Linked DNA regions of Homo sapiens: region 2 is linked to region 1. Evidence: fine-mapped expression QTL. A gene starts in region 1. The other region holds a variant in brackets. All regions are shown on one strand. Distances are from middle to middle. Region 1 holds the start of LTC4S (leukotriene C4 synthase). Region 2 overlaps CANX (calnexin).

The links. PIP is the estimated chance that this variant, and not a neighbour inherited with it, causes the effect.
Region 2: its variant is the best candidate, but not a certain one, in a credible set for the expression of LTC4S in monocytes (BLUEPRINT, PIP 0.51).

What each region holds. Positions count from the first base shown.
Region 1 is chr5:179,790,830-179,796,198 of GRCh38, reverse strand. LTC4S (leukotriene C4 synthase) reads right to left here and starts at 2,213. Exons shown (of 5, transcript NM_145867.2): 1 at 2,061-2,213; 2 at 516-615; 3 at 343-413; 4 at 177-258. The coding sequence starts at 2,118. RefSeq lists silencers at 1-608, 2,154-2,223 and enhancers at 418-1,090, 2,574-2,723, 2,744-2,823, 2,398-3,025.
Region 2 is chr5:179,710,347-179,715,715 of GRCh38, reverse strand. The region is part of intron 7 of CANX (calnexin); the gene reads right to left. Among named protein-coding and RNA genes, the nearest start is that of CANX, 14 kb to the right of the region's middle. The variant C/T (reference allele first, on the strand shown) is at 2,046.

The sequences.
Region 1 (5,369 bases):
CGCAACCCTGGCCCCACGGGGACTTCCTCTGGCCGCCGCCAGGGCTCGCCCACCGAATCCCCAAAGGCGCTGGGCTCCGGCCCGTCGCCCGCCCCCAGCTTCGGTCCCGCTCCCCAGGAGCCCCGCCCGCCCGCGATCTTTCCCCGGCCCCGCCCCGCTCCCCGCCCGGCCCTCACCTGAGCTGCGCGGAGCGCGCGTAGCCCTGGAAGTAGCGGAGGCGCGCGAACAGGTAGACCAGGCCGCACAGGGCCGCCGCCCCTGCGAGAGGTACGCACGGGCCTGGTGAGCGCCCTGCGCGGGTCCCGGGGGTCCAGCGCGTGCGCCCCTGCCCCACACCCCGACCTTCATGAAAGAAGATGCCGGCGACCCAGAGCGTGGCGAGGAACAGCGGGAAGTACTCGCTGCAGTTCACCCTGCGGTGGGCGGGTGGGATGAGCGCGCCGGCCGGGATGGTCCTGCGACCCGGACCCGCCTGGGGCTCGCTCCCCGCCCCGCGCCCTCCCGCCGCGCCTCACTGGGCTCGGTAGACGCGCTCGAACTCGGGTGGGCCGGTGGTGAGCGGCGGCGACACGCGGAAGGCCCTGCGCGCCGAGATCACCTGCAGGGAGAAGTAGGCTGGGGGAGGAGGGGGAGCGGGAGTCAGGTCTGGACACCCGAAGCCCCAGAGATGGGAGTGGGAGGGATCCTGCAATCTGGCCCTTCACTTGGCCGTGTCCTCTCCTCCCTAAGGCGGAACCCCGCCCCCTCCCCGCCCGAGGAGACCTCTCGTCTCACCCATCCCTGGCCTGCCCTGTGTCCCTGACATTCAGCGAGGAGGGCAGGGCTGAAGCCTGGGGCGCAGAGAGGCCCTGTCCCAACCTGTGAGTGTATGGGGGAGGGTGAGTGATTCAGGCACAGGGACACCTGCTCCGCGAGAGAGACCACTTGAGTCCTTGTTTCTGAATCATTTCACTCTCAAAACACAGGCAAATGCAGCTTTCAGGTCCCTGGCCAGGAAGTGCCTCGGGAGTCTGAGGGCAGAGCTGGCTGCATCCTCCCAGGTGCAAGGAAGCACACTCCCTGTAGCTAACAGTCCCTGGTCACCCACCTACCAGCGCCCACCAGCAGGGCCCTCTGACCCTGCCTCAGGCCGGGATCACTAAAGCCTGCGTCCCTGTGCCTCCAAACCTCAGTTTCTCTGTTCCTGCATTCCGGTCCCAGGCCTAAATCTGACAGACACCTTCTCTCCTGCTCCCAGGAGGTTGCAGCTGGGACTCTCCTAGCCTAACCCCAGGACCCCAGGGCTGGGGTAGTTGCAGAGGGTGGGCTGGCCCTAAAGTTTCTCTGTGGGCAGGAGCCCTTCTCTTGGTCAGGTGAGGCCAGGCCAGACCACACACAGACCAGTGCTGGCTGTGCGCTCCCTCCCCAGACCTCCCGTCGGACCATCTCCCCCTGAGTCCTGCAGCCCTGGCACCTTTGGTTCTGGGCCCTCTGCAGATGGGTGTCACAGGGTGGCCATCCAGCTCAGTGCAGGAGCAGCTGGAGGTCAGGCTGGCCTGTCTGTTCAGCCCCTTCAGAGCCCCCTCCCCAGGCTGTGCCTTATCCTAGCCCACACACTGTGGAGTAGTGGTGTCTCTTAGGTGGCAAGGATATCTGGCCAAGGAATGTGTCCTTTAGGGCCAGTCTGAGAAAGGCATTAAGCAGGCTCTTTTTAGGGGGCTGGAGGAAGGAGTCCCACCTCTACCCTGCTCCACGTGGTCCCAGTATGGAGGTGCCTTTGAAGCAGAGCCAGGGAATGGGGGCCGCTTGCTGGGACGCCCAGAGAGGGGACAGCTGGAAAGAGCAGAGATCAGCTTCCCCAAGCCCATGGCTATCCTACCATTTGTCCTGGCACCCTTGCCACCCCCAAGTCCTACAGCTCTCACAGCCAGGTGCCCCCCAGTTCCCTGAAAGTCCCCACCCTCTTCCAGCTTGGGCCTGGGCTGGAGTCCCCACCTCTGCCCTCCACCTGGGCCTAGGGGGCAGAGGGCAAGCTGTAGGGATCTAAGGCCCACCCTCTTCCTAGATAGGAACCAGCCCACCTTGCAGCAGGACTCCCAGGAGGGTGACAGCAGCCAGTAGAGCTACCTCGTCCTTCATGGTACCGTCGGTGTGGTGGCACGGGCTGTGTGTGAAGGCGAGCTGGGGAACGCTTAGCCCCGTCTGCTGCTCAGAGGACGGCCCAGGAGAGGAAGAGCAGCCTCGGTGCTCTCCCCGCCCCATCTCAGTGGAGGGGGTGCACGGGGGTGTGACCATACCACACAGAGCCAGGGAGCCAGGCCAAGCCAGCAGGGAGGAAACCAAAGTCTGGGCAGGGGAGAGCAGCTAGCTGGAGACCGCCTCACCACTTCCTGCTTGTTCGTGCCCCTTCCTTGCCTAGTCCCGCGTGGCAGAGCCCAAGCTGTCCATCTGGGTCAGCTCCAGCTGTGGGTGTGCCCCCTGCTGCACCACCCCACTTTCTCCAGGGCCTTGCAGACCCCCACATCATGCTGGAGCCAGCCCCAGGCTCCCGGCTAACTCCTCCACCCACCTTATCTGTTCCCTGTCCCCATCCAGGCTGTTCCTGGCAACCCCTGCCAAACCCTCCTCTGCGGAAGCCCTTCCCAGTGCCTTTGGCTTCAGAATGGAGTCCCAGCGCCCCCCCAGCCACACTGGGCCCCACAAGCTCTTTCTCCTTCAGGAAACCTCATGCCTGCCAGCCTTAGTCGTTGTAGGGGTTCCATGCACAAGGGCCACCCTGCCAGGAGGAAACCTGTCCAAGGCCCCCTGGGTGGCGGGAGGGTCAGCCCTTGTGGGCCATCCCTCTCCCAGGCCTCTCTTGGGCCTCCCACAACAGTCACCTGCTGTGTCTTTCTGCCCCGCAGCCCTCTTGCCTCAAGGTAACAACCCTCCACCACCTTCCTAGACGGCTGCCCTCCCCACACTCAGGCCCTGTGGTCTGGACAGTGCTGACTCCTGCCCCTTCCAGGCCTGTGAGATGGACACTGAGCCAAGGCTGACTCAAGATGGTGAGATGTAGTTCTGGAAACTTCCTTAGGACTTTGGGACAGGAAACTCAGAGTGGGGAGGGGGACTACGGCGGGCCACCCTGAGGACAGAGCCCACGCAGGGCCAGGTGGAGAGGAAAGGTGGCACCCGAGGACTCCTGCCTGGAGTTCTGGGTGTCTCCCTCGCCCCGCCTGGAGCGCCCCCGGCCGCCCCCCTCGCCCTGCCTGGAGTGCCCCTGGCCGCCAGCCTTCCCAGTTGGGCCTAACGGTCACTTCCTCTTTTGGCTTGAGTGGGTTTGCGGTGGCTTTTGGTCAGAAGTGGCAAAGTCCAGACTGACCCAGAAGCACGGGCAGGAGCTGGGGGAGGCCACAGGCCGTGCTGCAGGGGTCGGGCCGCATGGTTCTGCCCTCGCACCTGGTCCTTCCTTGCTGCCCCAAGCTCAGCTCCAGCCTGAGGCTCGGAGCCTGTTGGGCTCTCTCAGAATCCCTTCTTCCTCCTCTGGGTATCGCCCCTGCCCCCGGAAACCAGATATGCCCCAGCTGGGGGCTCTGTGAGCTCCTCCAGGGCAGGGGCCAGGGCTCAGGCCCGGCCCCTGCTTTAGACCAAGCTGTGACAGTCATCTTGGGGCTCAGTGATGGAGGACTGCCTCCTAGATCCCGGACACAGATGTAGTGCCAGGGAGCGATGGTGGCCGCGTCCTCAGACTCTGCCCACTCAGCCTCCTTCCTCCCTGAAACCTGCCCCACAGGGCCTGCCTGAAGGGTGGGATGCAGCCCACCACGCAGGGGTTGACGCTGGTGCCAGTGGGCTGTGCCCAGGGTGTCTGTGTGCACCACGCATACATACCTGCATGCCCCTTGGTCAGTTGTCACACACCCATGTCTCTGTGCTTGTGGGTGTCCAAGTGTCTTCGTGAGTCCAGGCCCTCCTGTCAGCCAAGCTCTCATTTCCTCCAAGGCCTGAATGTCCTCCCGTCGGAGTTCATCCCCTCAGTCCACAGCAGGAAGCCAAAGCCTAACATCAGCAGCTTCTGAGGAAGTCCCTTGGCAGATGTGCAGGGCAGGGACCTGGGTCTTGGCCCCGGGAGCCCTCCCCGGGTCTCTTGGTTCCCACCTCCCTCCCTCTGAGCCTGCCCAGGCTGTCAGGGCCCTGCCTGGGCTCAAGCCAGCTCAAGCTGACAGGAGGGCCAGCCAAGCCCCCACCCCTGCTCGGGCCACCCAGCTTCCATCTTCCTGTCTAGCTCTGGAGGCACCAGCATCAGGAGGGAAGCGAAAGCTCCTCCCTGAGCCTCCACAGAGCCCTAAGGAGTCTCTGATGCCCACTCACCAGGACCTCTGGGCGGCAGAAAGGCCGGCAGAACCATTGCACAGAGAAGAAATCAGAACTTCTGTGGAGTGGATCATAGGCAGTGCACAACTCAGACCCTGAGCTTGAACAAGAAAGTTTATTTAGAAATTATTTTATATTTGAGACAGGATCGTGCTCTGTTGCCCAGGCTGGAGTGCAGTGGCTCAACATGCCTCACTGCATCCTCAAACTCCCGGGCTCAAGCAATCCTCCCACCTCAAGCCTCTCAAGTAGCTGGGACCACAGGCTCTAATTTTTTTTTTTTTTTTCCAGAGATGGAGTCTTGCTATGTTGCAGGCTGGTCTCAAACTCCTGGGCTGAAGTGATCCTCTGCCTCAGCCTCCCAAAGTGCTGGGATTACAGGCATGAGCCACCATGCTTGGCTGAAATTATTTTAGACTTACAAAAAAGTTGCAAAAATCTACAGTCTCGGCCAGGCGCGGTGGCTCATGCCTGTAATCCCAACACTTTAGGAGGCTAAGGTGGGCGGATTACCTGAAGTTAGGAGTTTGAGGTCAGCCTGGCCAACATGGTGAAACCCCATCTCTACTAAAAATACAAAAATTAGTCAGGCGTGGTAGCAGGCACCTATAATCCCAGCCACTTGGGAGGCTGAGAGAGGAGAATTGCTTGAACCCAGGAGGCAGAGGATGCAGTGAGCCAAGATCACACCTGAGCGACGGAGCGAGACTGTGTCTCAAAAAAAAAAAAAAAAAAAAAAAAAAAAAAAAAAAAAAAAAAAAAACTTGTATAACCAAAATTCAGTTATAAACCAAGAGATTTCCATTGATACAAGTTAGTAATCAAGTATTTTACGGATCTTATTCAAGTTTCACCAACTGTCCTACTGGAATAGTACAAAGACCTCAAAAACTTTATGCTAAATTGTGCCAGGCTGGGCATGGTGGCTAACGCCTGTAATCCCAGCACTTTGGGAGGCCGAGGTTGTGGACCACCTGAGGTCGGGAGTTCAAGACCAGCCTGACCAACATGGAGAAACCCTGTCTCTACTAAAA
Region 2 (5,369 bases), 80 kb after region 1:
CATTTCTTCATTTTTAATAGAGCTGGTATTATTACGTTACTGAAATTACACAAACCTCCAATTTATTAAAACGCATGTCCACTCATGATTCTACTTTCTACTTTTTAACTCCCATGGAGAATGAAAAAACAATTTTAAATCCATAAAAGCATTTTTTAAAATTTTATTTTATTTTTTTGAGACAGAGTCTCGCTTTGTCTCCCAGGCTGGAGTGCAGTGGTGTGATCTCGGCTAACTGCAACGCCCGCCTCCCAGGTTCAAGCGATTCTCCTGCCTCAGCCTCCGCAGTAGCTGGAACTACAGACGGCCCCGTGCCACCATGCCCAGCTAATTTTTTGTATTTTAAGTAGAGATGGGGTTTTGCAATGTTGCCCAGGCTGGTCTCAAACTCCTGAGCTCAGGCAATCTGCCCAACCTCAGCCTCCCAAGGTGTTAAGACTACAGGTGTGAGCCACCGTGCCCAGCCACATGGGCCCCATAAAAGCATCTTAAGTGTGATGTATATTAAAGCCCAGATTCCACACCTAGATATCTAATACACAGGAGACTGAGTTACAGCACATCCAAACAAGGAATCCTATGCTGCTGTGTCAGTGATAATGAAAATGAATATTTCTGTGAGGAAGAACTTCACACTCTTTTGTTGTTAAGAAACGGGTGTGGTGGCTCATGCCTGTAATCCCAGCACTTTGGGAGGCTAACGCAGGTGGATCACTTGAGGCCAGGAGTTCGAGACCAGCCTGGCCAACATGGTGAAACCCTGTCTCTACTAAAAATACAAAAACTAGGTGGGCATGTTGGTGCACACCTGTAAACCCAACTACTTGGGAGGCTAAGGCACAAGAATCGCTTGAACCTGGGAGGTGGAGATTGCAGTGTTTCTGTCTCAAATAAAAAAGGGCCGGGCGCAGTGGCTCACGCCTGTAATCCCAGCACTTTGGGAGGCCGAGACGGGCGAATCACGAGGTCAGGAGATCGAGACCATCCTGGCTAACACGGTGAAACCCCGTCTCTACCAAAAATACAAAAAATTAGCCCAGCGTGGTGGTGGGCACCTGTAGTCCCAGCTACTCGGGAGGCTGAGGCAGGAGAATGGCGTGAACCCGGGAGGCGGAGTTTGCACTGAGCGGAGATCGCACCACTGCACTCCAGTCTGGGAGACAGAGCGAGACTCCGTCTCAAAAAAAAAAATAAAAATAAATAAAAAAATAAAAAAGTTAGATATAGCATGTAAAGTTGTATATGTGTATATACACATATTGACAAATATATATCACAATGCTGATGTTTAAGATAATTTTAAGTGACTTCTTTGTGTATGTTTTTATTGACATATCGTACTTGTACATATTTTCGGGGTACGTGTGATATTTTGATACATGTATATAATGTGTAATGACCAAATCACAGTCATTGGACGGGCCCAGTGGCTCATGCCTATAATCCCAGCACTCTGGGAGGCTGAGGCAGGCCCATCATTTGAGGTTGGGAGTTCGAGACCAGCCTGACCAACATGGTGAAACCCCAACTCTACTAAACATACAAAAAAATTGGCCGGGCATGGTGGCGCATGCCTATAGTCCCAACTATTCAGGAGGCTGAGGCAGGAGAATCGCTTGAACCCGGGAGGCAGAAGTTGCAGTGAGCTGAGATCAGGCCACTGCACTCCAGCCTGGGCAACAGAGAGAGACTCCCATCTCAAAAAAACAAAAAGAACAAAACAAAACAAAACAAAACAAACAAATCACAGTAATTGAAATATCTGTAACCTTAAACATTTACCTTTTCTTTCTATTTTATAGAGACAGAGTCTCATTCTGTGACCCACGCTGGAGTGCAGTGGCCCAATCATAGCTCACTGCAATCTCGAATCCTGGACTCAAGGGATCCTTTTATACCACAGCCTCCCGAGCACCTGGGACTAGAGGTACATGCTACCAAGCCTGAATAATTATTTTTTTGTAGGAACAAGGTCTCACTATGCTGCCCGGGCTGGTCTAGAACTCCTGGCCTCAAGTGATCCTCCCACCTCAGCCTCCCAAAAG[C/T]GCAGGGATTATAGGCCTGAGCCACTGCACCTGGCTCCATTTACTTTTTCTTTGTATTGGGAACAGTACAATTCTCTTCCAGCTCTTCTGAAATACACCATAAATTGTTCTAACTATAATTTCCCTACTGTACTATCAAATATTAGAATTTATTCCTTCTACCTTATTTCTGTACCAATTAACCAACTTGTCTTCAACCCCTCTCCCTCGCTTTAAGTGTTTTCTTTTTGCTTACTTATGGCTTCTGAATTTCTATACCTTAAATATGTATTACTTTTGGAAATAACAAAAAAAGGTTAAGCTGGGCTCAGTGGCTCACGCCTGTAATCCTAGCACTTTGGGAGGCCGAGGTGGGCGGATCAACAGATGGCCAAGAGTTTGAGATCAGCCTGGCCAACAAGGCTCTACTAAAAATACAAAAATTAGTTGGACATGGTGGTGTGTGCCTGTAATCCCAGCTACTGGGGAGGCTGAGACGGGAGAATCACTGGAACCTGGGAAGCGGAGGCTGCAGTGAGCCAAGATGGCGCCACTGCACTCCAGCCTGGATGACAAAGCAAGACTCCGTCACAAAAAAAAGAAAAAAAGGTTGTTATATTCTAGGCTGGGTACAGTGACTCACACCTGTAATCCCAGCACTTTCAGGAGCTGAGGCGGGCAGATCACTTGAGGTCAGGAGTTCGAGACCAGCCTGGCCAACATGGTGAAACCCGGTCTCTACTAAAAACAGAAAAATTAGCTGGAAAAAAAAAAAAATAATAATAATAAAAAAAAGAAAAATTAGCTGGGCATGGTGGCACAAGCCTGTAATCCCAGCTACTCAGGAGGCTGTGGCAAGAGAATCGCTTGAACCCGGGAGGCAGACGTCACAGTAGGCCAAGATCACGCCACTGCACGCCCACCTGGGTGACAGAGCAATACTCCGCCTCAAAAAAATTAAAAAGGTAGTCCAGGCGCGGTGGCTCACGCCTATAACCCAGCAGTTTGGGAGGCTGAGGCGGGCAGATCACCTGACGTCGGGAGTTTGAGACCAGCCTGACCAACATGGAGAAAACCCATCTCTACTAAAAAAAAAAAAAAAAAAATTAGCCAGGCGTGGTGGCACATGCCTGTAATCCCAGCTACTTGGGAGGCCAAGGCAGGAGAATCGCTTGAATGCAAGAGGCAGAGGTTGTGGTGAGCCAAGATCACACAATTGCACTCCAGCCTGGGGAACAAGAGTGAAACTCCATCTCAAAAAAAAAAAAGGTTATTATATTCTTCAGAAAGAGGCATGCCTATTTATGATCTCAAACTAGCAGGAAAAGCTTCAATAAACAAACAAACCAAAAAAAACCCTGTATCAAAATGATTCAACTCAATTGTCAATTGTCCAGGTATTGGAGCATCCAAATAAGTTCAACTACAAGATACTTCTGAAAAACTATTTTTATTGGATTTATGTATAATTATAAATATAACTTATTCTATTATTCAACATTTCTCAACAACAACAACAAAAAAAAGGAAGAAATTAGATCAGCAAAGCTCTTTGTAGAAAAAAAAAAAAAAAACACCTTTTTTTTTGGAGTGGGGGACGGAGTCTCACTGTGTTGCCCAGGCTGGAGTGCAATGGCATGACCTTGGCTCACCGTGACCTCCGCCTCCCGGGTTCAAGTGATTCTCCTGCCTCAGCCTCCTGAGTATCTGAGATTATAGGCGCCCACCACCCCACCCGGCTAATTTTTGTATTTTCAGTAGAGATGACGTTTCACCATGTTGGCCAGGCTGGTCTTGAACACCTGACCTCAAGTGATCTGCTCGCCTCAGCCTCCCATCGTGCTGGGATTACAGGCATGAGCCACCATGTCCAGCAAAAAATACCAATTTTTTTTTTTTTTTTTTTGAGACAGAGTCTTCCTGTCGCCCAGGCTGGAGTGCAGTGTCACAATCTGGCTCACTGCAACCTCCGCTTCCAGGGTTCAAGCAATTCTCCTGCCTCAGCCTCCTGAGTAGCTGGGATTACAGGCACCCTCCACCATGCCCGGCTAATTTTTGTATTTTTAGTAGAGATGGGGCTTCACCATGTTGGCCAGGCTGGTCTTAAACTCCTGACCTCAGGTGATCCGCCCACCTCGGCCACCCAAAGTGCTGGGATTATAGGCACGAGCCACCATGCCTGGCCAAAAACACCTATTCTATTCTTAAAATTATCTCGAACCTCAGTTCCTGTGGAAAAGAAGTTTTTTGGGTTTTTTGTTTTGTTTTTTGAGACAGCATCTCACTTTGTCACCCAGGCTACAGTGCAGTGGCAAGATCATGGCTCACTACAGTCTCGACTTCCTGGGCTCAAGCAATCCTCATACCTCAGCCTCCTGAGTAGCTGAAACTACAGGCACATGCCACTATACTCAGTTAATTCTTAAGATTTTGTAGAGACAGGGTCTGACTATGTTGTCAGGCTGGTTTGGAACTCCTGGACTCAAGCAATCCATCCGATTCAGCCTCCCGAAGTGTTAGGATTACAGGTGTGGGCCACCATACGTGGCCAAGAAGCTTCTTTTAATGCTGACAAATTAAGGTCATTTCCCAACTAAGATACTAAAGTGAAGAGATTCTTTTCTTTCGTGGAGGGGGTACAGAATCTTCCTCTGCCACCCAGGCTGGAGTGCAGTGATACAATCTTGACTCAACTGCAACCTCTGCCTCCTGGGTTAACGTAATTCTGCTGCCTCAGCCTCCCGAGTAGCTAGGATTACACCAGCTACTCAACACCACGCCCAGCTAATTTTTGTATTTTTAGTAGAGACGGGGTTTTACCATGTTGGCCATGCTAGTCTCGAATGCCTGATCTCAAGTGATCCGCCCGCCTCAGCCTCCCAAAGTGCTGGGATTACACGCATGAGCAACCATACCAGGCTGAGATTCTTCTTGTTTGGAGGCTGGGGTACTCTCCAGATATACAATCTTTTTTTTTTTTTTTTGAGATGGAGTCTTGCTCTGTCTCCTAGGCTGGAGTGCAGTGGCGCGATCTCGGCTCACTGCAAGCTCTGCCTCCCGGGTTCGTGCCATTCTCCTGCCTCAGCCTCCCAAGTAGCTGCGACTACAGGTGCCCACCACCACGCCCGGCTAATATTTTTGTATTTTTAGTAGAGACGGGGTTTCACCATGTTAGCCAGGATGGTCTCGATCTCCTGACCTTGTGATCCACCCGCCTCGGCCTCCCAAAGTGCTGGGATTACAGGTGTGAGCCACCGCGCCCAGCCTTTTTTTTTTTTTTTGAGATTGAGTCTCACTTTCGCCCAGGCTGGAATGCTGTGGCACAATGATCTTGGCTCCCTCCCA